Homo sapiens: one gene and its partners. The protein of the gene in region 2 interacts with the protein of the main gene of each other region in a pairwise test. Each region holds a gene or a part of one and is shown on either strand. Other genes may lie near its edges. The genes, in order: KCNN4, RYR2 and CACNA1D.

Region 1 (8,061 bases), on a different chromosome or scaffold from region 2:
ACAGCACTATTGTTCTGATAGGGGGTTGGGGAGCAGGCCCCTGGGGCAGGAAACTGGCCCTCTTCCCCTGCTCAGAGGCGGGATGCTGGCCCAGCCAGGGGAGCTGGCAGCCCTCTTAGGAGAAACAGGTGCAATGCTTTGTAAGGACGCCCAGGTGGTCCCCTCCCCCTGCAAATACCCGCCAGGCAGGGACCAACCCCTCTTAGGAAATCCAACAGTCCCAGTCCCCTCTAAATCCCTCTCTCCAGAATTCTAGATTCCTCCAAGGTTGTGCCACACAAAGAGAGGAAAAAAAAAAAAAGGAACAATTTCTCCGTGGTTTCTGGAGGCCCTGTGCTTCCGGCCAGATCTGCCCTGGGCTTAGAGCCAGAAGAGAGGGGTGGCAGTGGGGAGCTGCAGGGGGGCAGAACCGAGGGGGCTGTCTCAGAGCTGAGGCTGGGTCTCAGGGACTCAGCCCTCCGGATGAGAGCAGAGAAGGGTGTGACTCAGTCTTTGAGGATTGAATGGTAGTTTCTACATTCTTCCAGATCTGGGGTTGGGGTTGATTGAAGTTGGTTTCTAGGACAACACCAGGTGGGTAGGAAGGGAAGGGGAGGGGGCACTCTCTAGAGGCTAGATGTCTTTTTCTAGACACCACACACACACACCCACACACACACACACACACACACACACCTGAAGAACTATTTTTGATGTGAAATGGGACAGGAATAAGAAGGAATGTGAGTTTCAAGGTCCCCCTTCATGGGTATGGGTCTTGGGAGAAGAGCTGAGGAAGAGGGTAGACACCAGCATCTGGACAGGGTTGTCCTGTTGGGGAGAAAGAGAGCATTCCTGGGGACCAGATGATGGTGTTTTTTTGTTTGTTTGTTTGCTTGCTTGCTTGTTTCGAGACGGAGACTCGCTCTGTTGCCCAGGCTGGAGTGCAGTGGCGCGATCTCTCAGCTCACTGCAACTTCCACCTCCTGGGTTCAAGATTCTGGTTCCTCAGCCTCCCAAGTAGCTGGGATTACACACCCAGCTAATTTTTTGTTTTTTTAGTAGAGACTGGGTTTCACCATGTTGGCCAGGGGGTCTCAAACTCCCGACCTTCGGTGATCCACCTGCCTCAGCCTCCCAGAGTGTTGGGATTACAGGTGTGAGCCACCGCACTGGGCCCAGATGATGGTTTTGAGACTTCTCCAGAACCGACACATCAAGAGGGACTGATTTGCAGGGGAAGGAGGCTAGGAAAATTGGGAATCAAAAAAAAAAAATGGTGGTTTTGAAGGAAAGGTGGAGGGCCAGGCGGAGGGAGACCTGGGATCTCACACCGCTTTTTCCGTCCCCCCTGACAGTGGGCGCTCTACCTGTTCCTGGTTAAATGCACGATCAGCATTTCCACCTTCTTACTCCTCTGCCTCATCGTGGCCTTTCATGCCAAAGAGGTCCAGGTAGGGCAGGCCCCGCCCCTAAGCCTTGCTCCCTCCAACCCCCTCAGCGCCCTGTCAGCTCACACTTTCCACCCTCCTCCTCCTCCTGATCTGAGTAATGAAGTTCTTCTGCCCTAGGTGCTGCGTCCACACCCTCACCTACCCAGATGGGATGAACCATGAGCAGACAGGCAGAGCCTCCCCCACCAGCTCCGCCTTCCCCTGTAGTCCCCAGCCCCCCCTTGCACACTCACGGATGCTGAGAGTGCCCTTGCAGCCCTGCTTCCGCCCCCAGGCCTCTGTCCACTCTGCTCCCAGGCACTCAGCTTCCCAGATCTCTGTGCTCCGACATGGCATCCCCAATCCAGTCCTCAAGCAACCTAAGGTCCTAGGGCTGCCCACTCCTTTTTTTTTTTTTTTTTTTTTTTTTTTTTGAGACAAGGTCTTGCTCTGTTGCCCAGGCTAGAGTGGAGTGGCACGATCTCTGCTCACTGCAACCTCCACCTCCTGGGTTCAAACAATTCTCATGCCTCAGCCTCCCAAGTAGCTGTGACTACAGGCAGATGCCACCACGCCCAGCTAATTTTTTTGTATTTTAGTAGAAACGGGGTTTCACTATGTTGTCCAGGCTGGTCTCCAACTACTGAGCTCAAGCAGTCTGCCCACCTTGTCCTCCCAAAGTGCTAGGATTACGGGCTTGAGCCACTGCACCTGGTCCGGTCCCAGGGGTGCCCACTCCTAATCACCCTATCTCTGTGCCAATAACCTCCCTCTTGCCCCAGACCCAGGAGCTCTCCCCATCCATACCCCACCTTGGGTCTCACCCAGACACATCCCATCCCCTATTGTCCCATTGCCCCAGATCCTGTTGCTCCATTCCCTTTCCCCTCTTCCCCCTCTCCTATCATAACTTTGCATGTAAAATGGGGATTATTGGCCATGTGTGGCAATTCTATGAGCAGTGCCTGGCACATAAGAGGTGCTCAGTAAACAGTGCACATTATCATCTTATCATAGAGTAGCTAAGTAGCCTGTAGCCCAGTGCGCCATTGCCCATGGAAGGGACCTGGGCCTCAGCTTCCACATCTATAAAATGGGGGCAATAATAATATCAATCTCACTGGGTTGTGGGCATTTACTAAGTCACAATATGTAAACGGGATAGAGCAGTACCTGGCGTATCCACGGTGCCCAGTACATGCTGATTTTGTTATTGTTATTGTTTTGTTTATTTTGAGATGGAGTCTCGCTCTGTCACCCAGGCTAGAGTGCAGTGGCATGACCTCAGCTCACTGCAACCTCTGCCTCCTGGGTTCAAGTGATTCTCCTACCTCAGACTCCCCAGAAGCTGGGACTATAGGTGTGCGCCACCATGCCCGGCTTATTTTTGTATTTTTCAGTAGAGATGGAGTTTCACCATGTTGGCCAGGCTTGTCTCAAACTCTTGACCTCAAGTGATCCACCCACCGCAGCCTCCCAAAGTGCTGGGATTACAGGCGTAAGCCATCGCGCCCGGCCCATGGCTTTGTTATTGCTGATATTATTATTACAGTTATTACGCGTGTCAACCGAAAGGGGAGTAGGAGCGAGCTCCAGGCATGTGGAATGCAAGCTCTAGGGAGGCAGGGGGGTCTGTTGGGTTCACTGTGTATCCTTAGCACATAGAACAATGTCAGGCACACAGTCGGCGCTCAGTCAGTGTTCAAAGGCTGGAAGTGGGCTGAAACTAGTGGGGTGGGTGGTGGGGAAGGAGGAAAAAGTGGAAAGATGTCTTCCTCAAGTCCTGTCCCGCTCCCTCCCTATCCCTCTCCCGCCCTGCACTCCCTCCCTCCTGGCCAGGCGGCACACCCCACTTATCTCAGGGCGCAGGCAGGCGCGGGCCGCCGCCTGACCTGCGCCTGACCTGCTCCTGACCCCTCCCTTCTTGGCCCCCTACCGGCAGCTGTTCATGACCGACAACGGGCTGCGGGACTGGCGCGTGGCGCTGACCGGGCGGCAGGCGGCGCAGATCGTGCTGGAGCTGGTGGTGTGTGGGCTGCACCCGGCGCCCGTGCGGGGCCCGCCGTGCGTGCAGGATTTAGGGGCGCCGCTGACCTCCCCGCAGCCCTGGCCGGGATTCCTGGGCCAAGGGGAAGCGCTGCTGTCCCTGGCCATGCTGCTGCGTCTCTACCTGGTGCCCCGCGCCGTGCTCCTGCGCAGCGGCGTCCTGCTCAACGCTTCCTACCGCAGCATCGGCGCTCTCAATCAAGTCCGCTTCCGCCACTGGTTCGTGGCCAAGCTTTACATGAACACGCACCCTGGCCGCCTGCTGCTCGGCCTCACGCTTGGCCTCTGGCTGACCACCGCCTGGGTGCTGTCCGTGGCCGAGAGGTGAGGGTGATGGAGGCATAAATGCGCAGGGGGGAACCCCGGACAGCCACGGCGGCCGTCCTGTGCCGCGGTGCAGGTTGAGGCCCCCTAGGACCAAGCAGTGGAGAAAGTTCACACTTTGACCCCTTCTCCTCTTGCTGGCTGAAATTTGCCCACACTCCCATCAACTGGGGTGAGAGGAACCAACAGACAAGCCCCCAGCCAATCCTCCACCTGCAGCCTTCAGTCTCCCCAAACGCACACACAGACCCTAGAAAGCCCCTCCCTTCCGGCTGCCTGACCTCTGCCTCAGGTTTACAGGCCATCTGTTCGGTCTCCGAACCTATCTCTGGGACCTGCCTAAAGGGTTGCCTCTGCCTTGGAGGAAGGAGACATATTTTCCCAATTAGCACGGAATGCACTGTAGGTAGGTGCTTTTTGTGATCCTAGGAAGGGGATGATTTGGAACTGCTCTGGAAAATAATTCCAAGCAGGGAATTGGAACTAGATCCTGGTTGCCAGCTAGATACTGTGTAACCCGATGCCGCGCCTCAATTTCTATCCCTTTCAGAGAAAAACGAGGTTGGGAGTGATCTCAGCCAGTGGTCCTCAAAGTGTGATTTCAAGACCAGCAGCATCACCTGGGAACTTGCAAATGAAAACTCTCAGGTCCCTTCCAGACCTACTGAATCCTGGAGGGTAGGGCCAGCAATCCACTTTAGCAAGCCTTCCAGGTGATTCTATGGCCCAACCAAGGTTGAGAACCTCTGGTCTAGTGTATGTGGCAAAGATCCTTCAGGGCAGGAGGAGAATGAGAAGATCTGGCTTTAGATCTCTCCTCTCTGAGCCTCAGTTTCCTCATCTGAAAAATGCATGTCACGTTCCACCATCTGTAGTCTCCCTGGCAGTTCTTGTTTTTTGATCTGGAGTCTCAATTATCCAGGCTAGCGTGCAGTGGCACAATCTCTGCTCCCTGCAACCTCTGCCTCCCGGCTTCAAGCAATTCTCATGCCTCAGCCTCCCTAGTGGCTGGGATTACGGATGTGCACCACCATGCCTGACTAGTTTTTGTATTTTTAGTAGAGACCACGTTACCGTGTTGCCCAGGCTGGTTTTGAACTCTTGATTTCAAGTGATCCTCCTGCCTAAGCCTCCCAAAGTGCTGGGATTACCATGCCCGCCCTCTGTCATGAGTTTAAACTCCTTCACCTTCCAGGATCTTAGTTTTCACAATTGGGAAATTGGTCAGAATCAGGATTAATGAATGATCCCCCCACCATGTTTCTCAATTGAATGATGGGAGAATGGGGAGGAAGTCAAAGTTCCACATTCCAAGGCAGAAGTCCTGAAACTAGAATGTACTTCGGAATGAGGGGGTGGGGTTTGTGAACAGTACAGATTCCATCTTCGCTCCTAGAAACTCCAACCCGGTGGGTCTGGGGTGTCAGGGGCCCTCATGAATGAAGCTTTCCCTGCTGGTCTTGCGGCAAGGGGCCTGTGGACAAAGTTAGACAAATCTCAATGTTTCAACCCCTTCCATGGCTGGACTTAAATGTCTCCTCTGTGAAGTGAGAGGAAAGGAAGGCCGAGTCCCACCAAGCCTTTTTAGAGTCCTTTTTGGTCCTGATAGGGCCACTTCTGGACCACACAGCATCTTTGTGGAAATTAGAAAAATATACCCCTTCCTCTGGGTGGATGTAGCCACCAGTCAGGGTCTGACTGGGTTTTGGCCCCCTATCGACTCTCCACCCTCAACCACACGCTCTGAATGCTACAGCAGCCCGGGTAGCCTAGCTGAGACCATACCGGCATTGGGATTGGCCAGACCCAGTCTCAAATCCCAGAGTGGCTAAGCAACTTGCCCAGGTCACACAGCAGAGAGGAGGCCATGCAGGCTTTCCAAAGCTCAGAACTTAATGGCTTTTTGTCCAGGTGATTCTTAGGACTATGGGTGTATACTGGGAGGGGAAGGGAGGGAACCAGAGGGAAGGGGATGGGAGGGTATAGAGGGAAGGGGAGTGAATATCATGGAAACCTCTATGGTGGGGTTTTAGAACTAACCTACCCTTCCCCATAGGCAGGCTGTTAATGCCACTGGGCACCTTTCAGACACACTTTGGCTGATCCCCATCACATTCCTGACCATCGGCTATGGTGACGTGGTGCCGGGCACCATGTGGGGCAAGATCGTCTGCCTGTGCACTGGAGTCATGGTGAGTACAGCTGCCTTGGGGACATGATCCCTATCCCAAACTGGTCATCCTCTGGCCCCAGGAAGCCATGATTAAATGGGTTCAACACAGGCTCTCAGGGACAGCTCCTGAGAAACTTGAGTGTCTGGGGCCCCCAGAGCCCCATTCTCTCTTCAAGAACAAGATACTCACCTGTAATCCCAATATTTTGGGAGGCCAAGGTGGGAGGATCACTTGAGCCCAAGAGTTTGAGGGTACAGTGAGCTATGATCATACTGCTGCACTCCAGCCTGGGTGGCAGAGTGAGACCCTGTCTCTTAAAAAATAAAATAAAAAATCAGACCTAGGAATCCAGCCCCTAAGTCCTTGCTCTCTCTAGAACCTAGGGCCCCAGCCCTTATCCTCCTCAGGGACCCAGGCTCCTGACTTCGCAGCCCCATTTTCTTCCAGAACTGGGAAATCGTCTCCCAGCCTCCATCAAGGGTGTAGAGTCCAGTTATCAAGTGCATACCTGTGGGGCCAGGCTACCTGGGTCCGAATCCTGCGGCTGCCACTTCCTGGCTGGGGAGCTCAGGCGAGCCACGTGATCTCTCGGGGCCTCACTTTCCTCATCTATAAAATGGGGATGCTGATGCTCCTCATGGGCTTGCTGAGATGATTAAATGGGTCCAACTACGTAAAGTGCTTCCAACAGTGCCCAGCCCACAGGAGGTGCTCAGTAAACAGGTCTAGGGGTGGCCAGGCATCCAGCCACCCCACACCAGCTCCTGTTGCCCTCAAGGATGAGGCAGAGGCTCTGCAGCCTGAGTCAGCCTCTTCCTGAACCCTGACATCCACCTCCTTCCCTCCATAGACCCAGTCACTCAGGTCCTCCCACCCAGCCCTGGCCCCCTCTAGAGACTAGCACCTAATGCCTTGGCCTTCACCTCCCTACAAGATCGGGTTCCCCTCACCCTCGGGGACCTAAGCCACCAGCACCTAGCCCAGATGTGGGCCTAGGAAGGACATATTCATCCCCCAATCCCTAGGTGCACAGGTGAAGGATGTGGTGACCTCCACTCCCCCAGTGGTGAGTCTTTGGAGCAAGGGAAGAGGGGCAGAGACTCAGTTAGGGACCTGCAGCACCGCTCAGGACCTCCTCCCTCATTTGACAAAAGGAGAAACAGAAACCTAGAGAGATAGGGTGATGTGCACTTGAGCTCACAGCCTGCTCCTGGAAGAAAGGCTCCATGGCATGGTTGGGCCATAAAAGCTTACTTTTCCGGAGCACATACTCTGTGCCAGTCTCTGCCCTACACACTTGCCAGGGGTAATTCATGAAATCCACCTAGTAACCCTGTGAGGCCATTTCACAGATGAGACACTGAAATACTGAGAGATTAAATAACTTGCTCAGAGCTGGGCTTGGAACCCAGGCAGTCCCCTGGAGCCAGCGTTTGTGACTGGAAGTTGTTCTGAGTGATCAAGAGCTGAAACTATAGGGTTGGGGATGCTTCCTAGGAAGATTCCTTCTAACTTGGGGACAGGTGAGCAGATGCCACAAGCAGCTAGGAATTGCCAAGGCCTTGAAGGGCCAGGAGCATTGGGAGAAGGAAGGGAGGAGAATGAGTGTTCGGAGGAAGGTGCTCAGGGAGGGCAGGCAGCATGGAGCCAGGGCTGAGTTGTCCAGGTGGGAGGCATAGACCTTGGAAGGCCTTGGGAGCCAGGCTGAGACGTTCAGGCCAGTGGAAGCCTGGGAGATTAGAGGGGACCAAGGGGGTTAGGGGAGGATGAGTGGGAGGCTGGAGACGGTCCAGGAGAGAGAAGACAGGGCTGGAGCTAGGAAGAAGTTGTGGGAGTGGGAGAAGGATGGTCGCCCTCCACAGTGCAATGGCTGACCACATGAGCACTGAGGACCCAGAGGCCTGCCCCTGGCTCAGAACCCAGCCTTCCTCTCACTCCTCCAATCCTATCCTTCATTCAAGAGGCCACCCTGAGGGTGTGAATGCTATGCATCAAATTTGGGCTCGGACGTATGCGATTTATGATTCTAGCTCCACCGCTCTGAGCTGGGACCTTGGCTCTCCTCTCTGAGCCTCTTTGCTTGTCTGCTAACTGGGGATGGTCGT
Region 2 (11,514 bases):
AACAAGGCTGGTAAAATGTAGGGTGTCTTAATATTGCAATAAATAAATATAATCCACCAAGTTGGACCTCTTAGCAAACTTCAACAGGTAAGGAGAATTTCTACTCAGATGGTAGATTTCTAGTATCCAGGAATTAGAAATGTATAGAGAGCATGGAGATTCAGGTTAGGTGTTAAAATGGGTAGCCAGGTGGCCTAGTTTAAACCAGACTGAGCACACTAAACTCTTTTTCCTGAAAAAAAGCAATGAATGTTCCCATTCGGAATGGGCAGGGTATGTATTGTGTTTGCTGTCTCCCTGGCCTCATCATCCAGCACCCTCCTGCTCCCTCCTTCGCTCTGCCCATAGTGCACCACTGCACTGCCCTTCCCTGCCCTCCTCGTAATCGTTCACACATGCCATGTACACTCTCAACTCCAAGCCTTCGCACATACCAATCCCTCTGCGTGGAGTGCTCTTCCCTTAGATAGCCACAAGGCTCATTCCCTGGCTTGATTCAAGCTACTGTTGCCATGTGACTTCATCAGGGATGTCTTCCCTGACCATTTTCTCTACAAAACTGGCCCCTCTGTTAACCTTTATCCTGCTTGCTCCTTCCTTCCTTCCTTCCCTCTTTCCTTCCTTCCTTCCTTCCCTCTTTCCTTCCTTCCTTCCTTCCTTCCTTCCTTCCTTCCTTCCTTCCTTCCCTCTTTCCTTCCTTCCTTCTCTCTCTCTTTCTCTCTCTTTTCTTTTCTTTTCTTTCTTGACAGGGTCTTACTATGTTGCCCAGGCTGGACTTGAACTCAAGCAATCCTACCACCTCCACCTCTGCCTCCCAAGTAGCTGGGGCTACAGGCCCGAGCTACTCCTCCTGGCTTCTGCTTTGTATTTTTTGATAGCACTCAATGCACCTGACATATACATTTACTTGTTGGTATCTAGCTCCTCCCCTAGAATAAAAGCCCCATGAAGATAGGGCCAGTGCTTTATTTGCTAGGACAAAGCCTGGGACACACGCAATAAACGTTTGTCGAATGAACGAACGAATAAAGGGTTCAAAGAACCTGCTCATGTCCTGTTGTTCTGTGAATACCTAGAAGACATTAGAGATGGGTCTCATGCTGGGACAAACTCTATGGACACAAGCGTTTGGAGGTTACTTTTGTGTTACTGAACACAGCAAAGTGGTTAGCACCCTGCAGTTAAAGAATGAACTCCACATAGAGGAAGGGATAAAAAGAAGAAAGGTGTTTCAAAATGGAATTTTCTTAAAAGGAAAGTGAAAGTAGAAAGGTATCTACAAAATGGTAAACAAGCAGTTCATGACCATCAACAGAAAGGATCTTAATTATTACCCATAAAGAAAAGAAGTATAATAAAAAAGTAGACACATTTTCTCTGCCTCTATGCAGTAGTTATTGCATTTGAGGGACATTACCCTTAAACATACACCTACAGGCCTGGGCAATACAGGATCAAGGGCTGTGGTTCACAGGAGGGAGATACAATCTCTGGCCAGAGTAATCAAAGCCCAGAAGGGGGCTTTGAACTAGTCCTTGAAGCATGGAGTGGATTTCAGCAGGATTTTGTGGCCCTGGATGGCTAAAGAAATAGCAAAAGAAGAGGCACGGCTGAGTAGCTTTTTAATCTGCAGAACAGTAGTCTGGTTGGGAGGCAAAATGGGAATACTAGGAAAGAAATATTGAAAAGGTATGTTTAAGGCTATATCGTGGGGAGTCTCCAAAGCCAAGCTGAGGGGTTTGAACATAACCTGGAGGCATCTGGGGGCCACCTTTCAATGGTTCTAGTTCTTATTGGGCAAGGAAGTGACAAGATGAAAACATTATTATAGGGGGTGGTGCTGGTGGGAGTCAGGAAGATGATTTGCACTGGAAAAGCATAAGAAACAGGAAGATTAGTGATGATGTTAGTGAAATTACTCTGGGATATAAAGACAAGAATCAGGAAAATGCCTTTTACTTATAAAAAGACACTGATGTTCAGTGGGAAAGGTGAGAGAGGAATCAAAAATGGTGATCAGAGTTTGGATTCGAGCTGTAGTACAACAGAAATAGGCAAATCAGGAGGAAGATCTGCCTTCAGAGACACGTGACAGTCAGAATGACCTACTTGGGAAGCCACTAGGCAATTTGAGTTGGAAATGAGGCTGGGGAACCCACATTTCCTTAGGAACCCATACCTCCTGATCTGTAGGGGATACATTCCAAGACCCCAGGGGACGCTCAAAACCATGGATAGGACTGAACCCTATGTATGCTGTGTTTTTCCCCTATACATACAAACCTAGGTTTAAGTTTAGTTTATAAGAGGCACAGTAAGAGATGAACGATGATAACTAGTAATAAAATAGAACAATAATAACAATATGCCAGCATCACTACTCATGCACTTTGGAGTCATTATGAAGTAAAATAAGGGATACATGAACACAGGCACCATGATACCGCGATAGTCGATTTGATTATTGAAACAGCTACTGGCTAACGGTGGGGAGTACAGAAGAGTGGATGCGCTGGACAAAGGGATGATTCATGTCCCGAATGGGACAGAGTGAGATGGTACAAGGTTTCATCACGCTACTCAAACTGGCACACAATTAAAAATGTAGGAATTGTTTATTTCTAGAATTTTCCATTTTAAATTTTGGAACTTTGAGTAACTGGAACTGCAGAAAGCAAAGCTGTGGGTAAGAGGGGACTACAGTAATAAGCAAACTTTTCGTCGGGTGGGGACATCCTTCTCTGTGATGTCCAGGGCTCCTCCGATGCCAAGAGGTAGATCATGTGTACTTTTTCTATCTGCATGTAGTTCAGTCCTGACCCTGGAAATCAGAATACTAATTGTAGTTTGGGGCTTCATAATTTGGAAAGGAACTAATACGATAGTGGTGAATAACCTTCAAGTCTTGAAAAACTGATTTACCCTAAGAATCCAAACTGCGGAGAAAGGCACAAATTGGATATTATTTCTGAACACATAGTAATCTCTGTCTCTTTCCAGAACTTACTTGGCATTCCAAGAGCTAGCAGGACCTGCTTTGGCCTGAAACCAGGGACAGATCTCCCGGGGCTGCCAGAGCCTTTTATAGTTCATGCTAGTCTAGACTCTTTTTTGTGCTTTCCGCTTTGGGATGGAGGTAGGGGAGGAGTATAAGTCCTCGGACCCCTGTGTCAAAACTCAGCAGCTGCATACTCTTGGCCAAGCTACTTAACTTCTTTAAGTCTTCTTTCCTGTTTTTCAAAAATGATATTGCTGCGAAGACGAAAAGAAAAAATAAAATGCAAGTGCTCGGAGCATAGTAAATGCTCAATAAATGAAGTTTCATCACCATCGTCATCATTCGTAATGTAATTTCTGGCCATCTTGCATTAATGCAGAGATTCAGGCCATGTGACCTGAGGACTGGCTTGTGGTGAATTTCCCAGGGATTTATTTCTAGGACAGGTGCTCATAAGAATTATAGTATTTTAGAACACATGCAATAAGGATGTAAATAAAATGGAAATTTTGTAAAATGTTGGTCTGTTGAGTTCTGAAGTGGGATAAGAAGATAGGTATGAAATGTTCCTTAGAGATTTTGAAACAGGAAATCTGAGTTAACAAGAAATGGGCTAAATCTCAGGACGTTAGAGGCTCTCTAATCCTAATTTTATAATGATTCGATGACAATTCCAGAGGCTTTCAAGTCAGTAATAAAGCCTTTAATGTATGTAATCTTAATTGAAAGGAGCTGAATTAAAATGATAACATTGAGTATTTTGCTGAGTTTCCGTAGAAACCTTGAGGAAGAAGTTAATTTTTTAAGCTCATGTACATCATTGGGGAGCTTAGTAAATTGTAAGTCAAAATGAAAAAGCTTACATTTGTCCTAATTTTTTTCTTCTTTAAGGCTGTCTAGCATCCTGCCAAGTGAATAAGTGGGCTACGATGGCCCATTCTTAATTAGATGACTGCAGAAAAACTCTTAATTAAAAAAGCAAAAATATAATTTTTCCCTCTCTTGCAGAATATAAAATTAGTCATAAAGAAGAATACTTCCCAAATTTGGACTAAGAAACATAGAAATGTCATCCTCTAAACTTTTTATTAATAATTTTATGATTAATAAAGATTTAAAATGTAGTATCTATTGAATATAAAGATTATATTATAATAAAGCAATATTAAGATAATAAAAAGCAAAATAAGCTATTATACATAACACGAATTTAGAAAAAGAGAATTTTTTTTTTTTTTTGAGATCAGGTCTTGCTCTGTTACTAGGGTAGTGGCTTGATCATAGCTCACTGCAGCCTCAAACTCCTGGGCTCAAGCAATCCTCCTACCTCAACCTCCCAGTAGCTAGAACTACAGGTTTGTGCCACCATGCCTAGCTAATTAAAATTTTTTTTTTTTTTGGTAGAGATGAGGTCTCCATTGCCCAGGCTCGTTTTGAACTCCTGGCTTCAAGCAATCCTCCTGTTTTGGCCTCTCAAAGCACTGGGATAACAAGTGTGAGCCATTATGCCCAGCCAATAAATATTTTAATAAAAATTACAAAATATATAGATATCAAATACTATTTTCTAATGAAAATTGTAAATAATTTTTTTCTATTTAATGAACTATAGTTTTGTGCCTAGAAAAAGGTCTACTTGTTAATTTCTTTTAGTCTGAGTCTACAATAAGAATTAAATACAGTAAACATAAACTTTAAGCTGTATCCAAATTTTATGTATTTTTTCTCAAGTACACTTAAAATTGAGGTTAGTTAGTATCCTATGATCTCTGCACTGGAATTCTTACTACAATTGTCCACCAGAAGAAGAAACTAGGGAATTATAACTAAATTATCCAAAAGGGTTAAATTTTTTTTAAAAAAGCTATAAGTAAAAAGTTTCCATAGCTTTCACTGAAGTTGCTTTCTTGTAAAAATTATTTTGTTATGTAATTATGAAATATAACAGAATATCAGAGTACCAAAAATAATATTCCACCAATATGCCCATCACCAGTATTAAAACACTTGTTATATTTGCTTTGGTTTTCTTTTTAAAAATAAATGTTGTATATCATTCTCAAACATATTTTTATACTTTTAGAACAGACTAGAGATCTATAAACCTCATAGTTTTGTATTTTTGTGTTTTAAAGTCCACATACACGGTGTGTTTTATAAATAGTCTCTGCTCTATGTCTACTTGCTGTTGAAGACTGTATGGGGTGAATAAGAAACATCGAGTGTCTAGGCCTTTTAGCATTATTCCACTTACATTGAGAGAACTAAAGAAATAATAACCATAACTCTTGCTAGAACAGTTTACAGCCTAGTTAAAATGCCAAAATGAAGACGTGGTAAGCGTTTTTATATTATTTTACCTACCATCTGGGTAGAATGGAGTAATTAAGAAACCTGTCTCTGCATAGTTCTGAATAAAATAGTTTAAAACGTCAATTTGATACGTTCTAAATTTGGAAGATCAAATCATTTAACATTAAATCAGGAGCCAATTTCAGAATATAGTCATTGCTCATGGAGGACTCTTACCCGACTTTTTGGGAGCTCACTGGTTGTTCCTTTAGAGACTCGTAAGAGTAAACATTCACATAAATAATAACGGTTTAAGAGTTGGTTAGTCGTCATGGCTACAGGGATAGGTCAAGTTTTTAGGTAAGGTGACTGGTATACTTCCATGAGATAGGGCAGAACATTACTAGTTCTACCACGGACAGCGAGTATTTATACACATATTGTCATTCTCCTGGAAATTTACAAACCTACCCCAGTAAGTACAAAGTTAATGAATGCTAAAAATAAAATATAAACTGTATAGAACTCAGTGGTCGATTTTAATAATGAGTTAGATGCCGCAGAATGTAAGATGTAGGTAAACGGACGCAAAAATCCTTGTTTTACAATGTCTGCATCTCCGTAGTACTGACATTTGAAAACTTTACTTTGCACATACTTATTTTAAGTACGATAAATGAAAGCGCTGTGGACTAGGAACAAGAGACAAATTGCTTTCTTGTCCAAATTGTCTCAGACCCTGTATTTTCTTAGTCATAGCCGTTTGTTAAGTAGGCATTTGGTAGACTATTGCATGGAGGATTGCGAGAGCAAGATATTACTATCTGCGGTGGAATGCTCGAATTTCTTCTCTCAGCAAGGATAATGGGTAGCACAGTCTGACTTTAGACCCATCCAGTGGTTCAGACTTATAGATAGTATCCCATACTTTACCGCAATTCCTTGTTGAATTAAGGCTTGCACTTCGAATACAGACTACACACTTCTGGGTCTGTCTTGTACCACATTGTCTGGCATAGGCGCTCACTGTATATTTGTTGAATGTTAAAGTTCTGTGCACCAAAACCGTGCACTTTGCATCGATTATCTGCGAAAAGCATGGTACACTAAAACTAGATCTTGAAGAATTCCCATTTGATCATGAATAGAGGTAATCCACGTTTAAAATACCAGGTGTTGCGTAATCTCTACTTGGAGATTAGCCACCCCGTGCGCCCAGGTGAAAGATATCATTCTTCCGTGCGATCCGAAGTGCCGTGGAAGTTAGTGCCCTAGCCCAGTCCAGGAGGAAGGGGCGTCGTGCCGGCGGTTTTAAGCTCGGAAGGGGCAGGGGAATGAGCCCAGGGACCCCAGCGGGGCGCAGGTAGGAGGCTGTGCGCTCGCCGGGTGCGCTCCGGCCCCGATTCCCAGCGCAGCCAGTAAGTGGCGCTGGGCCTCGGGTTTGGCGGCCCGGAGGAGCGGGCTGCGGATTACCTGCAGCAGCGGGGAGCCGCCGAGCTCCTCCCCGCCCGCCCCCACACCCCACCCCCACCGCTGCACTAACCCCGGCTCAGCTGGCTCCGCGCACTTGCTCGGAGGAGCCGGGGCCGAGCGGACCGCCGGCTGCAGGCAGCGAGCGCGGCTGGGCTGCGGGGCTGCTTCCCCGCGTCCTCCGGGCCCGGGCCGCCCTCCTCCCGCACAGTGCGGAGCAGGGAGGCCCCGCGCCTCGACCACCCGCGCCCGAGCGTCCGCGCCTCCTCCTCCGCTCTGCAGGCGGGGACCGCCCGGCGCTCGGCACCCGGCAGCGCGGCCCCCTCCAGCCCCCGGCTCCCGGCAGCAGAAGCAGAAGGCAGCGCCAGGGGCCGCCGCCGCCGCCGAGCTCCGCGGGGCTCGGGAGCCGGCCCCGGCGAGGAGGCGCGGAACCATGGCCGATGGGGGCGAGGGCGAAGACGAGATCCAGTTCCTGCGAACTGTAAGCGCCGTGCGTCGCGTGTGCTGTCAGGGGAAGGGGGCGTCAGGGCATCCACTAGCGGGGTCCGGGCAGAGTGACAGCGGGCAGCGGGGACTCGCGGGCGGGGCGAGGGGGTGCCCCCTGAGGATGCGGGAGGAGCGGGCATCACCAAGTGTGTGCAGGTGTGCGTGTTGGGGCGAGGGAAGGCAAGGGCGCGTGTCTGTGCGCGCGTGTGGAAAGCTAGAGGATGGAGCGCGGCTAGCCGGCGGCAGGCGCCCGGGCTCGGACCCGGGGCACCGGGGACAGGAGCGTCGGAGCTGCGGGAACCGGGAGAGGAGGGGACGGCCGGTCCGGCCTGCCTGGTGGCACGGCTGGGACCTCCCGGGCGGCCGGGGGCAGGGTGCAGAGCAGGGTGGCCCGTGGGGGCGCGGGGAGCGGCGGGAACTCGGGCTGTTTCTGGGAATACCGCCGCCGGGAGGTTTCTTGGGCTTTCGGGCTGGACCCGCGCGTTGTCACGGAGCGAAGACGTTGGTTCGCTTACTCCGTGTAGCGTGCGGCGCAGCTGACCGGGGGCGGGGGTGATGGTGCAGGACGCTGCGCGGAGGTTTCCCCCAAGTCAAGGTGCTGCGAAAGCGGAGGAGGAGTCGCCTCCGTGGTCCCCGCGGTTCCCGGGGCTGGTGCCATCCGTGGTGGTGCTGTGACCGCTTGCAAAGCGTGGAAGGCATGGGAAGCGAGCGTGTGTTTGCGTGTGTGCGCGCGCGCGGGTGGTGGTGGGGAGAACATCGTGAACGTGTCGTTCTCTAAATGCTGGCTTATTGCATGCCAAGTGAAGCAAAGTGTGTGTGTGTAAGTGTAAGGGCAGGGTGGCTGCCCGGGAAAGGTTGGCTCCACACTAATACAATTCTTTCTCCTTAAGTACCTCTTGGCACTGCTCCTTCCTTTCTCTCATTTGTTCGAACACTGCAGATACTTCCCAGGCTGAGGCATTGCACACCTCCAAGCTGGGACTGGAGAGCCTCTCCAGAAAAGAAAATGCCCTAACTTCCTGCTAATAATAACCTAGTTAGCATCCTTTCAGTCGTTCCTTCTCCACTTCTGTCCTCCTTCCCGAAGGATGTTCCCTTGCAGGATTCCCCAGACTTCCCCAACCTAGAACTGCAGCTTCTGCTGGTACTTCTTTCCTCAGCAGTACAAAAACAAAACAAAACAAAACAAACAAACAAACAAAACCACTTCCCGGTTACAGTTACCTATAATCACAGAAAATCGTAGATACGGTGGAATTTTGGAATATTAACTTTTAGGTGTGAAAATAGTCTTGATGTATTTGGGTACTAAACATATGAAAACAGCGAATTTGCAAAGGAACGTTGTAAACGACTGTCTCTTTCTCTTTTGTGCATTAAACGGACTGGGAGAAAGCTTTGGGAAGGATAAAAACCCAGGGTCCACATCAGATGACAACCTAATAGTAATCCAGTCTAATAGCTGCAGGTTATGCACCATTGCATATGCTTTTTGAAGTACTGTTGGCCCAAGACCGGGCTTGGAAGAGCCTCTTCACTAATACCTTGGTCACGGTGTATAAACCTGCTAGTAATACAGTTGTCTTTTTCATAGAAAATAGACTATAAGGGTTTTTTTTTTTTTAAGTAATTAACACCACATTAGATTTTTCTCAAAACTAAGGACTATTTTATTCAGGTGGACAAATACGGTTGCTGTATAATTTTTCAATCAATTCGTATCAAACTCTGTGGGGTTAAAACTAGCTGGGACATTTTGGTAGGCTTCATGCACTCAAGGGCTTCCTGCGGGCTTAACTGTTAAGCCGAGCTCATGGAGGTGGTGTTATCAGAATGCTTAATGGGGACCGAGGGAACGTGCTGGCTGATGAGGTTCTGCACATATCAAGTAATGTCAACTCTGTGCCACTCAGCAGCTGCCTGTCAGCTAGAGCAGCACCTTTGATAAGTGGGTCCTGGGTAGAGATCTGGCAGTCCCAGGCTGGGATTTTTCTTTTAATAAAACATCCGTAGGTTGCTGTGCTGACGACAAATGACCTTGAAGGAGGTGACACAGTGGAGCAGGGGGATTTTTTTTTTTTTGGTATAGCATTAACATCTAAAAGGAAAACATGCCTTTCCTCACAATTTTCCAATTTTCATATGGAAATTCTCAAATCCTTTACCGGCTTCTCCACCCATTACCCTCCATCCTTCCCTCCCCCACCCCCCTTTTTTTTCTCTTAACCTGAGAATGTTGGTGGTTCAGAAATGCTGATGGGGTGAATAATGGGGAGACTGTAGTATAGTTCCCACATTGAAGTCGCTTCTTTTTTTTCTGAGGGCATTTATTTCTCTGTCATGTGCAAGCTTGTCAATATGAGTTATTTCTTCTTCTTCTTCTTTTTTTTTTTTTTTAAAGCAAATAGCCCAAGGAGTATTAGGAATCTGTACATCTTGATAAAACAGTTGTAGATGGAAGAATTCTTGATAGTGATGGATGAAGCTGTTTTGCATAGAAAAACAAAAACAGTCATTAAGACACCGTAATTGTGAATTTGATGGGACATTTCATATGTCCTGATTAGAACATCTGGATTATTATCTTGAGCAGGTCATTGTCTATTGGATTTGTATTCAGCACCCCAGCACATTGAGGCATCTTTTTGACCACTGTCCACAGAAAGCTTTTTTGCTTTTCTTTTTTTAGAAGAGGTGTGAGATCACTGTTAAGGGAAGTAGAGGTGAAATCTTTAATGGGCTGTATCTGTGAGTTATGTATGCTGCTGTAAATTAATTCCTCATTTGCAAAGGGGTTTGTCACTGTTTAGCTTGTACCTGTCTCTCTGGCATCTCTGTTCCATTTGCTGCTGCTTGTCGAGTTGGCTCACATTCCTTCCAAATAGTTATGTAGATGAATGATCATTGATTCAGTGGCTCCCCCATCTGTTGGAAACCTGCCCACTTGGGTCTGTTTATCTTTGAGAGAGATTGAAAATATGTTTTTGTAAACTCTGGATATGCTGGGACACTTATTTTATGAGAGAAAAATCCTATCATAAAATAAGCTGTCAGCTTGTAATGGATTCATTCACTGTCATATCCAAACATATCCATGATTTGGAATGTGTGTTTTATTTTAAAGATTTTATTAACTTACCAATGTAGCATCAAACTGTCATTTGGCATTTAAAAACACGCATCTTTTTCGTTATGGTCCTCTTTTTTTTTTTTTTTCCAACAATCATACAGAATGTTATAGAAGATATTCCTCTGACTTTAGGAAAACCATGGTATAAAATGACCTTGGTCAAGGTTTTTTTTTTTTTTTTTTTTTTTTTTGAGTACTTTGTCTTTCTTTCATTTGTCTAAGCACAGTTGAGTTACCCTTGTGGTGTACTGTGTCATGTAGTTTTGTATTTACCCATAGATTGAGACTTAAAGCTTAGTCCTGGCTGTAAGAATGATCCTGATAGGAATGCTTACGGTCTTCCTCCTGTCTTCTTTTGCAGAATGAAGTATTTCATTATAGATTTCTTCTCAGTGTTCATACATCTTGTTCCACAATGACAAGAAGCATCTTTAAATATACTCATCTACAAATGGTGACAATTATGCAGTATAGATGCTGGTGTACAACACTGCATAGTAGTTTGGATGGGAATACTTAGCCCTAGTTTGTAGAGGTCCAGGAAGGTTAATGGTATGAAGTCAGTACTCAGCAGTGCAGAACGAGGACTAAAATTCAAATCTTAGGCTAATAGTGTTCTTTCCAGGAGAGAAAGGCTTCTTTATCTGCTGTTCAAGTATGTTTTAGGTTTATAGCAAAAGAATACCAAGTCAGTTTTCTCAGCTGTAGGAATGTCACAGAGTACAAAGGAAAAGATGGAATGAGCAGTGGAAATTCGCACTTTTTGCTCCCTTCATAATGAAGCTACGAGGAGCTTTAGATAGATATGCACTATGGTATTTTCCCAAGGAACTGATGGAAAGCCCACCCAGGCTTACATCATCAGACTTATTTTATTTTAACTTAGAAATTAGCATGTACACATTGGCAGGAAGGGCAAGATCTAAAACGCTTAGGGCACTAATTTATTTGACATTCAATTGTATTTGTACTTTGGCTTCAGATAAGTGTTTTTATCACGGCTGAATTACCCAAGAAAGGACTCCAGCAGCACTGGGTGACTGTGCTTCTTTAGATAGCTTTCGGGAGAGAGGGAGAGGTGATGAAGCACACATTTTTCCTGAAACTCTGACATTGTGGGAATTAGATTAATTCAGAA
Region 3 (10,561 bases), on a different chromosome or scaffold from region 2:
ATTTCTGGGGATTGGAACTTGTGCCTATGGAATTTTGGGAGCAGCCTAAGCTACCTTTTAGCTTGATATGTGTGCTAGAAAAACTTCATTACCATGTTTTGTGATATGTAATAAATTCAGGGTGCTGTGCTTAAGCTTCATGTCAATTCTAGTTTGGGAACATCTGTTTCCCTCACTCCCAGTCGTGGGGGACAGCCTGACCTGGCCCTACCCAGAACACATGTGAAAAAGTAGAGTCAGTCCCTGACTCTTATGAGGTCTGTTTTTTCCTGCCTGGAACAAGCAGAATATAATCATGATTTCTGACTCTCTGCTTCTGTGTCTGGGAAGAGCGATTCTTCTCTCCTCCTCTAATGTCTCTTTAATAAATATGTTGTCATTATTTGTCTTTGGAAGTGGCAACTTGGGCCACCTTTCAACCTTCTCCATGATTTATGTTGCAAACAAATTCTCTGTCCCATGTCTGTTCATTGCACTATCTTGTCGACTAAATCCTAATCTTGTGTATCACTGAAGATGTGCTGGAGACAGTTTTTGTTTCTATTATGCAATTATGTTATATGTGTATTTCAGTGAAATGTCAACCCGTCAACAGAGGATGATGTTAAAAATTATCCAAATAAATAGTTTTCTATTTCTTTTAATCAGACCTAGTCCAATCAGTTGAATGACAGTAAATAGGATTATATGTTGTTTAAACTTGGGAGCATTTCTGGCCTTTACTGCCTTGTAATATGGATTAATGTACCAAATTTACTTGGGGGTGTTGACTTAAGTGCATTATAACCTATGTTTATTTTGTGGAAGCAGCAGCAGGTGTCTTAAACCTTGTCTTTTTGTTTGGGAGCCTTAGATATGTAACCGAGTTTTCTTCCCAGTTGATCCAAAATCAGAAGTGAACCCCTTGCTTAGCTCACCATCCCTTGATGATGTACCCTAGGAAGCTCTGAATGAATGAAATGCGGCTGTTTAGTACTGCCGGGTATGACCTTTCTTCACGTTCCTGCAGCTGTGCTGTGTAAGAGCTTTTACCAACATAGCATTACAGTTGCCTTCTTGATGTTTCCATGAGAATGGCAGGTGGGTCCACCTCAGAACCAAATGACTTCCCAGGCTCAGATGTGCTGAACTCGTGGATCCTGAGAGAGGGAAAGTGTGTGTATGTGTGCGTGTGTGTGTGTGTGTGTGCGTGTGTGTGCGTGTGTGTGTGCACGTGCACGCACGTGTATGCACAAGCATACCCACATGTGCATATGTGTACACACATGCATCCTGAGCCTGTGATCAGAGGGACAGGAGAGCAAGAAGCAGCCTCCCTGACCACCCCAAGAACTGTCTTGGTTTGACCCGGGACATGACTGTCTGTCCCCTATAAGATCTCAGCATTCCTAGTCAGGAAGCTTAAAGCTTTCATTCCCAGCTCTTCCTTCACCTTCAGAATTCACTAAATGGAAAGATCTGCTGCTCTATCTTCACAGAATGGTTCAAACCAAACCCAACCTGGCACCATTTTTAGCAGAATTGTCTCAAAGGCTTGGTGCTTTTGTGCACCAGGCTATTTTTATAAGGGCCTCTTGGGAAGTTCCTGTGTGACTTTACATTCTAAATTATCATCACCAGCACTGGCATTGGCAACTGCAGGAGACCAGTTTTGAGCATCCCCAGACCAGTGGGACCCAGCCCTGATGGATCTGGCCAGACTGCAGCCACCATCCCCTCCTCCTCCCTGAACCACTTCTGGGCATCTGTTCTACCCCATGCTTGTCTCAGGGATGGTCATCATGCCTATCTGTCCTTGCCACAGCTGCCCACATGCTAAGAGGTGTTGTGGAGGAAGGACAGGGAAGCGGTCTCCTCTCCGAGGACCCACCACTTAGTCCAGTTTTCCTTTGCAAACCACCCTGAGGTTGAAGCATTTGCTGCACATCCATTGTCTTAGCTGTTCTCCAGGCCTTTAGGGCTACAGAGCTGTGGACAGACTGCCAGTGAGTGAGGAGGGGCTGCCTGGATACAGGACCGTAGACCCAGGGCAGAGAGGACATGCCTTCTTCAGATGCAGGACTTTCTGTGGAAAAGAATAAAGTTGCCATACAGTCCCTATTAGTCTTTAACTCAGCATACTGTTTTCCTTCAAACTGGTGGTCAAAACATCATCATTCTCTCAGAGCTGGAGCAGTACCTTCCTCCATGCACCATGCATAAGCATCTTGGAATGCTTCCCTAATGAAGTCATGAACAATGGAAGGGCTTATCCTGGGCCCTGTCTCAACATAGCAGGGACCACAGTGAGGAAGGCAGCTGTGAGGGCGCCAGGGGAGATGCAGAGTATCTGTGACGGGCCCAGAGGGATCTACCAGGGGTGTCTTCTGGTGGGTCTTGCACTGCCTGCAAAGGCTGATAAGCCACTTTCAGTTTGTTGTGATCTTCAAAAAGCGGACCCCCTGTTGGTGAGTTCTCAGCCTGCACACAGGCTACAGGCCAGGGTATCCTGATGACCACGGTGGCCGGGTCGGTGTGCGTGTCAGTCTGCTCCGTCGTGGTCCGAGTGTGCTGGTGGTTGCAGTGTGTTGTGTCACTCACTCGTTCCATGGCTTTTTAGCAGAACCAGTGGCCTGAGGACTGCTTGGTCTGCTTGTGCCTCTGGCACCTACACCTAGGCTTCCTCATCCTAGATGCAGCAAGGGAGTCCACATCAGCCTCCCTTTAGATCGGCCAGGCTGTGCTCCTTGCCCTGCTCTGGGCTTGGAGAGATAGGGCTCTTGTAGGCGAGCCTACTGAAGACTGTCACTGAGACAGGGGCATAAGCTCTTGGCCTGGCAGATCCTAGCACTAGTAACCAGGCAGTGTTCCTTGGAAGTGGGGGTTTTGCAAAGGAGGTTACGGGGTTGCAGGCCTCAGGCATCCTACCTAGGACCTTCTTGACCCTCTGGATGCCTGACCATACCAACAACCCTTAGACTGCCTTCAGTGACATCAGTCAGTGCCCTGGATTGGCTTTTGGGGAAGCCTTCCTCCCCACCGCTGAATCAGGAAGGAGCAAAGCCAGGACCCAGGCTGGCCCCAGGGCCCATGTGTGGTCTAACCTGTTCTGCCATTTTCATTGATCTAGGCGGGATTAAGGACACTGCATGACATTGGGCCAGAAATCCGGCGTGCTATATCGTGTGATTTGCAAGATGACGAGCCTGAGGAAACAAAACGAGAAGAAGAAGATGATGTGTTCAAAGTAATTATTCCACGCCTAGCTACACACTGGCCATCTGGAAATAGCAGGGCAGGACTCCAGTTTGGGCAGTTAATCATCCACAGAAGAGTCTGGAGAATGCAGCCCATCCCCAGGGCCTAGAGGGGCTTTCAGACCACACCCTCCCCCTCTTACAGACCCTCCCCAGGCATCAGCACCTCTTCTAGGGCCAGGCCAGCTCTTTCCCTGAGCTTACCCAGCTTCCCCTCACTGCCTGCTTCTGAGGAGCTCGGCCACAGCCGCTGGCCCTGTGGATGAGCATCCTGAGTCCTTCCGGCAGCTGCCTTTGCTACCCTCCTCCTTCCCGGGCCAGCTCTTTGATCTGCCAGCTGGCTGTCAGTCCCCCAGCCCAGAGAGCATGCCCAACCTTGGGGCCACCAGCCAGCCCAGCTGGGTATAAGTCACCCCAACTTGGAGCAACTGGAAGAGCACACTCGAGTGACAGCCGACAGCTTGCTCCCCAGCTCAGGAAATCGGTAACCTTCCTCATCTCGGGGGGACCAACTGCCACACAGTCACATTCACCCTGATCATTGAGACACTCAGATTGTTTTACAGGGATCCTACGGAGCTTGCCTAGAATTTGTTTTTCATGTAGAAAAAGTTACCTAACATAGCTAGTCTGCATCAAATACTTGTTAAATTACCTGGTGTTGTCTCCCATTATTTTGCAGAGAAATGGTGCCCTGCTTGGAAACCATGTCAATCATGTTAATAGTGATAGGAGAGATTCCCTTCAGCAGACCAATACCACCCACCGTCCCCTGCATGTCCAAAGGCCTTCAATTCCACCTGCAAGTGATACTGAGAAACCGCTGTTTCCTCCAGCAGGAAATTCGGTGTGTCATAACCATCATAACCATAATTCCATAGGAAAGCAAGTTCCCACCTCAACAAATGCCAATCTCAATAATGCCAATATGTCCAAAGCTGCCCATGGAAAGCGGCCCAGCATTGGGAACCTTGAGCATGTGTCTGAAAATGGGCATCATTCTTCCCACAAGCATGACCGGGAGCCTCAGAGAAGGTCCAGTGTGAAAAGGTAACCTTGACAATGTGTTTGGACTTGCTCATGTGGTGTCTGCCCGTGTTGCGTCTAGTCCCAAGGAGCAAGGCGGGTCTGTGCTCTGTGCTCTGGGGCATGGAGGAGGTTCCCCGTAGGCATTTGTGTCAGGATCTGTGAGTGCCCCCCAGGTCACTGCTGCCTCTGACACTCTCCACGTGATGGACCTAAAGGATAAGGGCCACGTGCCATCCTACATCCTGTGTGGGGTGCCGAGGGACCTTAAAACAGCAGCAGCCACAAAATCCACCTCTCAATTGTGCTCACATACTGTGCGACAGGGGTTGGTGAATTGTTTCTCTAAAGGGTCAGTGAGTCAATATTTTAGGCTTTGAGAACCATACAGTCTTGCACCTTCTCAGCTCTGCCGTTGCAGTGTGAAATATGTAAGTGAATGGGTGTGTGGCTGTGCCCATTAAAATTTCCCTATGGTCACTGAAATTTGAACTTCATATATTTGCATATGATGAGATATTTTTTGTCTTCAGATTCTTTTTTATGTTTTTCAATCCTTTATAACAATAAAACCCGTTCATAGCCCATGGGTCATACAAGGCCAGGTGGCAGCCCCTATGTGGATGGCGAATCATAATTTGCTAACCCCTACTCTAGGAGGTAGCCTGATGTTTGCATTGTAAATTTGGTTGGAAATTAACTTTTATCTTCTCCCTCCTTCCCATGTTATGCCTTTCCTGGATAGAACCCGCTATTATGAAACTTACATTAGGTATGTGCTCATTACCTGTTTTTGTGTTAAATACTGTGATGGTATGTTACCAGCTGGCCTCTCTGAGTGCTGAAGAATGAGAAACACTTCTTTGAGCCAGCCTATTAAAGGTTATCATAATTCATGGCTGTGGACTCAGAGGTCAGAGGTTGTTGCTTCTAAGCAAAGGCACCTTCAGATCCATATCTCTGTCGACTCTGTTGCCATCCAAGGACTGGTGTCCACACACAAGGTGCACCCCATGGGCTGGCTCCTGCAGGCCTCGCGATGGCACTAGGAGCATCCATTGTGCATTTACAGGGGCCTCAGCCTGTGTGGCTGGCAGCTCCGGCTGCTCTCTGGGGTCAAGCTTCTTGTGGGTGCTTTGCAGCATGACCCAAACCTCCTGAAGGTCAGGAATGGGATCTTGTCATTTTCCCTGTAGCCCTCAAGATATGTGTAGTATATTCCACTCCACATGTATTGACCTGAGTTGAATTGTGGGCGGAATGCCCATTTTGTTGGGGGCCAAGGGAGGATGGGTCTTCCTGTGTCATGTTATGAAGTGAAGTCGGGAGCCATGTGGGCCCAAGTTGGGTGCAAGAAAGTGGAGAAGTCAGAGGAAGTGCCATCCTTCCTTTGGAGAGAGGATTGACATCACCACGTCCTTCTCTGAGGACTGAGGCCAGGATGAGCCGGGTTTCAGGGAGACTTACCACATTCCTGGGGCAGGGCAGCCTTTGGAAACATGGTGGACATGTTCTGTGACAGTTTCCCCTGTGGCACTGTATCCAGAACTCACTCGACCTTCCTGATTTGATACAGCAGGAGGTCAGTGGCCAGGAAGCTCCTTTGTTCCAGGTTCTGAAGTCACACTGGGCTGGAGCTGGGGGACTAGAAGGAGAGGGAGGGATCAGAGCAGATGCCCTGGGAACCCAGGGTCTTTTTCCCTAGGTCCATTTTTTTGTTCTGTTCTCCAAATTGCACCTATTCCTTTGGCTCCAAGGCCTCTGGACACAATGGTTTGACACCAACATTGTGCAGGGCACTGAGAGAGACCCTATCCTGGCCCGCAGGCACACCACACACACAGACACACACACGGTGCTGTTGCCAGAAGCCGGAACAGTCCAGTGCTGCCTGAGGCAGGTGCGCGCTGGGAGAAGCCAGGAGCACCCGGGCAGGGTTGCCGGCCACAGGCAGAGGTGCAGCTGCAGCAGGAATTATCTGCCGCCTGCCCAGGTTCTCAGATCCTCTCTCCCAACTGCAGGTCCGACTCAGGAGATGAACAGCTCCCAACTATTTGCCGGGAAGACCCAGAGATACATGGCTATTTCAGGGACCCCCACTGCTTGGGGGAGCAGGAGTATTTCAGTAGTGAGGAATGCTACGAGGATGACAGCTCGCCCACCTGGAGCAGGTGAGCTGCTCTGGCTCCTGTGGAGAGCGGGAGGCCGCCCTGCCCTGGTGCTCGGCCCACTCCGGAAGCCAGGGCCACCGGCAGCTGCACTTGGGCTTCCCCTAAAAAGCAAAATGGGAGCAGAAACTCCAGGCCAGAGGGAGAGTGGAGCTGGAGAAAGAGAGCCGCAGAGAGGCAGGGTGAGGGCTATTCTTTCAGACCTGTTGCCTTATTTCCACTAGGGGCCTCTGAGGCCTTTTAGTGAAGGCTTGGGAAATGGGAGATGGGCCTGCTTCGTGGCTGGGTTAATGCCTTTCCACCACCCGTCTTTGGAGAGATCAGTTTTTGCTGAATTAACACTTGGAGCTCTGGCGGCCCCAGGGCTCTGTGTGGACGGCGGCTTGGCCAGCCTGGAGCTGGGCCAGGTCCTCATGCACAGCACCTGCCTCCTGCCACTTCAAGGGGTCTCTCGGGGAGATGAAGAAATGAGGGGTCACTCAGCAGAGGGGTCCATCTTGCTTCTGTCCTACAGAAAGAATGTTTGTTAGTACAATGGGCACTCTGCTTTAGGAGGCGTAGCAGGCGGCACAGGCGGATGAAAATCGCCCTCCACCCTCTTCTCTGAACCGCACCTCACTGTGACCAGGGGCCCAGTGAAGTGGAAGTGGAATGGCAGTGAGGTGGCTTCTGGCATCTGAGCCACAGCCTGACCCTCACCCTCTGCTCCCGCAGCCCTTCCCCGTGCCTCTCTCAAATGCCTGACTTCTGAAACCACTGACTCTGAGCCAGATGAACTCGTGTTCCCTTCTCTAGGGCTTTTGCTCACACTGTGGCCCCTGCTTGGATGCCCTCACTCCGTCTGCTGGCCTCATCCCCCCTGTCGAGGGCCTGCTCTAGGGCCTTGCTTTTTATTTCCATGACTGGAATTGAAATCCCTCCCCCAACCCCCAGAAAAGAAAACCTCACGAACCGCATGAGTTCCTCTCTTCCAGCACTGGCCCTTTCCAGCTCGCATTTGATTTCTGTGTGCTCATGGCATTTTCTAAGCCCATTGAGGGTGGGGCTCATGCTTCATGCATCTTGGTGTCCTTGGTGCCCAGCACCTGGCAGAGGGAAGGCACTCAGGAGAGGGGCTCTCACGGAGGAAATGAGTGGGTGAGAGCCTGGCTCACAGGACATCTGCGATCCACATTTGCCCTGGAGCTGAGGGATCAAAACTGCCAGCACATCCCTCAGCACAGGCCTCCAGTCCTGTAATGGCCCTTGGTCTCCATCTGGAATCTTCCATGAAACTGAGGCCAGCCTTGTTCTCAGCCAATCCTACTGTGTCCAAGGGAGGAGGCGGGGAGAGGAGTATGGATGTCAGTCTGGCAGGGTTGAGTGACAGAGCTTGTTACCTAGAACCTTACTGCCCTCCTCTCTGACCTCCAGGCAAAACTATGGCTACTACAGCAGATACCCAGGCAGAAACATCGACTCTGAGAGGCCCCGAGGCTACCATCATCCCCAAGGATTCTTGGAGGACGATGACTCGCCCGTTTGCTATGATTCACGGAGATCTCCAAGGAGACGCCTACTACCTCCCACCCCAGCATGTGAGGCCAGATTTTTTGTTTTGGGTGGAACCTCCCGGGGAACAGTGTACCTCTCCCCCAACCCCCGCTCTGGGGGCCGGTGATGGATGTGTGCTGCCAGGTCAGGATCCTTAGTCCTCAAGACCAGCCCCCAGCCAGAGAGTGTGTCTGCTTTCCTTCCTTTCTCATCCATATCTCACGTGATAGAGCTCTAGCCTCTTCAGTGCTATGCTTGACTCTCTTTGAGAAGAGAGAGGCTGTGGGGCCCTAAGATTGCACGCACACATCTGGTAAGGGGTGTTTTGCATACATAGCATTGTCTTTGAACCTGGGACCATCCTGAGAGGGAGGCAAACCACACACATGCTTTTGCTGTTGTCAGCCCTGCTGCACTCTGTGATGGGGTGACTGAGCCCCCAAAGGGGAAGAGTGGGCTCAAGTGCAGAGCTGGCTGTGCCGCAGGCCTGTCTTGCAAAACCCCATGCCTCTGAGGGCCACCTGGGCATTCTGGTGTCCATCTGTCCTCAGGCCCCTCCAAGCCTTATCCTCCTCCCTCATCTCTGCTCCTCCTCCCTCCCTCATCTTCCCTCCTCCTCCTCCATCTTCCCTCCTCCTCCCTCATCTTCCCTCCTCCTCCCTCATCTTCCCTCTTCCTCCCTCATCTTCCCTCCTCCTCCTCTATCTTCCCTCCTCCTCCTCCATCTTCCCTCCTCCTCCATCTTTCCTCCTCCTCCCTCATCTTCCCTCCTCCTCCTCCTCCCGCATCTTCTCCTCCTCCCTCATCTTCTCCTGCTCCCTCATCTTCCCTCCTCCTCCTCCCTCATCTTCCCTCCTCCTCCCTCCCTCATCTTCCCTCCTCCTCCGTTCCTCCCTCATCTTCCCTCCTCCTCCCTCATGTTCCCTCCTCCTCCTCCCTCATGTTCCCTCCTCCTCCTCCCTCATTTTCTCTCATCTTCCCTCATCTTCCTCCTCCTTCGTCTTCTAGCATCTTCCTTTATCTTCCTCCTCCCTCATCTACCCTCCTCCTCCTTCTTTTCCCTCCCCCTCTCCTCCCTCCTCCTCCCTCCTCCCTCCTCCCTCATCTTCCCTCCTCCCCCTTCCTCTCCCTTGCCTTCCCTCCTCCTCCCTCACTTTCTCTGCTTCTCCCTCATCTTCCTGTCAAGTCTGTCAGTGCCCTCTGCTCACGGGGCAGGTTCTGGACTTGTTGGTCCCCTTCACTCTGGGGCCAGGAAACCCATCCCACCTAGAGGGGCTGGGGCTGGGGCTGGCTGCTTCCACCTGCTTTCCCTCTGCAGCGGTGGGTGGCAGGAGCTGGCGGATCTGGGTCATCCTGAGCAAGGAACTCCAGCTGGGGGAAGAGGTGCAGCCCTGGCCCCTTCCAGCCCTTGGCTGAACAGTTTCATTTTGGACATGTGGGCATTTTGCTGATGGTTAAGGACTATCCATTTCTGGAATTTCTGAGGAATGAAGCATATTTTTGAACAGGACTCTAATCAGTAACCAAAAATAGCCGTGACACATCGGCTTCTGAGTCTGCCAACTGCATATACTATAAAGAGCACCACTGGGAGGTGCCCAGGGCCCTCTGCCTCACTCCAACTGTCACAGCCCCACTGGGGAGTGTGACCAGACCCATTTCCATGGTTAATATTTAATTCCTCAGCCCTGAACACATGCAGCTAAATGAAGTCACTCCTTTCCCATAAATACTAGATGAAGCAGATGCAGGTGAGGCCGGGTGATGGCCCTCGCCCTTGTGAGTTCCACTGCCTTCCTCGGGCCTCGGCCTTTGTCTACTGCCTACTTGGCCAAGCAAGCAAGCACATGAATCCCACCAGCCACAGTGCCAGAGAGGAGCTGAGTGGGCAGGAGTGGCTGTGCTCTTGATTCATAAGGTGGTTTTGCTTTGCTGCCCCGCAGCTCAGACCTTGGACAGGAAGAACATTTCCCTCCTCCACCTGTGTTCTCAGCTGCAGGGGGATTCCCTCCTCCTCCAGAGAGTGTTGTGCAGAGCACATGAGATGGTGGGGATCCCTGGAGCATTTTAGAAATGGAAAAGCACCACATACAGGAGAGGGACCGCTGCTCTCCTTTCCCAGCCCCCAGCCCGGCCATTCGATCTGGAAACCTATGCTCCACAGCACAGTTGGCCCCTGGGTGGTGCGTGGAGGGAAGGCTTTCTGATGAGGCAGCCGTGTGTGTCCCATGTAGGCAACTGAACCAGGAGGCCCCACAGTGCGCACTGGGCACGAGAGACCAGGACTGGCTGTCTCGTTCCTCTCTGCTGGGCAGTGCCTAGCCAAGGACTCAGCCCGGTCTCTTGTGTGCAGCCCCAGTGTGCCTGGGAGTCCTCCCCTGGCTAGGCCCTGGGCTTTCCAATAGCGGAATGAGGGGCATGTGGAGTTTTGCCAGGGCTGAGAAAGGAGGCCCTGTGATCCGAGAAAAGCAGCGGTCAAGATAGGAGCCATAGAAATGCCTTGTAAACGATAGGTGTGCTCTCGACAGAGGCCCCTGCAAGGGGTAGGAGGTTTCTGGGAGGAGGCTGCTGGCTGTGTCTTAGGGCCCCAGAATTCAG

The links.
Region 1: the proteins of RYR2 (region 2) and KCNN4 come close enough for resonance energy transfer, tested with the Homo sapiens proteins (one study listed by BioGRID).
Region 3: the proteins of RYR2 (region 2) and CACNA1D come close enough for resonance energy transfer, tested with the Homo sapiens proteins (one study listed by BioGRID).

The regions. Positions count from the first base shown.
Region 1 is NC_000019.10:43,769,913-43,777,973, reverse strand, and holds part of KCNN4 (intermediate conductance calcium-activated potassium channel protein 4), read left to right. Parts: intron 1-1,337; coding exon 1,338-1,433; intron 1,434-3,354; coding exon 3,355-3,782; intron 3,783-4,073; exon of another isoform or gene 4,074-4,074; coding exon of another isoform or gene 4,075-4,171; exon of another isoform or gene 4,172-4,177; coding exon of another isoform or gene 4,178-4,188; intron 4,189-5,838; coding exon 5,839-5,974; intron 5,975-8,061. UniProt on the Homo sapiens protein: Intermediate conductance calcium-activated potassium channel that mediates the voltage-independent transmembrane transfer of potassium across the cell membrane through a constitutive interaction with calmodulin which binds the intracellular calcium allowing its opening.
Region 2 is NC_000001.11:237,035,329-237,046,842, forward strand, and holds the start of RYR2 (ryanodine receptor 2), read left to right. Parts: upstream 1-6,855; 5' UTR 6,856-7,193; coding exon 7,194-7,241; intron 7,242-11,514. UniProt on the Homo sapiens protein: Cytosolic calcium-activated calcium channel that mediates the release of Ca(2+) from the sarcoplasmic reticulum into the cytosol and thereby plays a key role in triggering cardiac muscle contraction. Aberrant channel activation can lead to cardiac arrhythmia.
Region 3 is NC_000003.12:53,797,140-53,807,700, forward strand, and holds part of CACNA1D (voltage-dependent L-type calcium channel subunit alpha-1D), read left to right. Parts: exon of another isoform or gene 1-644; intron 645-3,109; coding exon 3,110-3,226; intron 3,227-3,918; coding exon 3,919-4,286; intron 4,287-5,007; coding exon 5,008-5,034; intron 5,035-6,283; coding exon 6,284-6,433; intron 6,434-7,843; coding exon 7,844-8,007; intron 8,008-10,561. UniProt on the Homo sapiens protein: Voltage-sensitive calcium channels (VSCC) mediate the entry of calcium ions into excitable cells and are also involved in a variety of calcium-dependent processes, including muscle contraction, hormone or neurotransmitter release, gene expression, cell motility, cell division and cell death.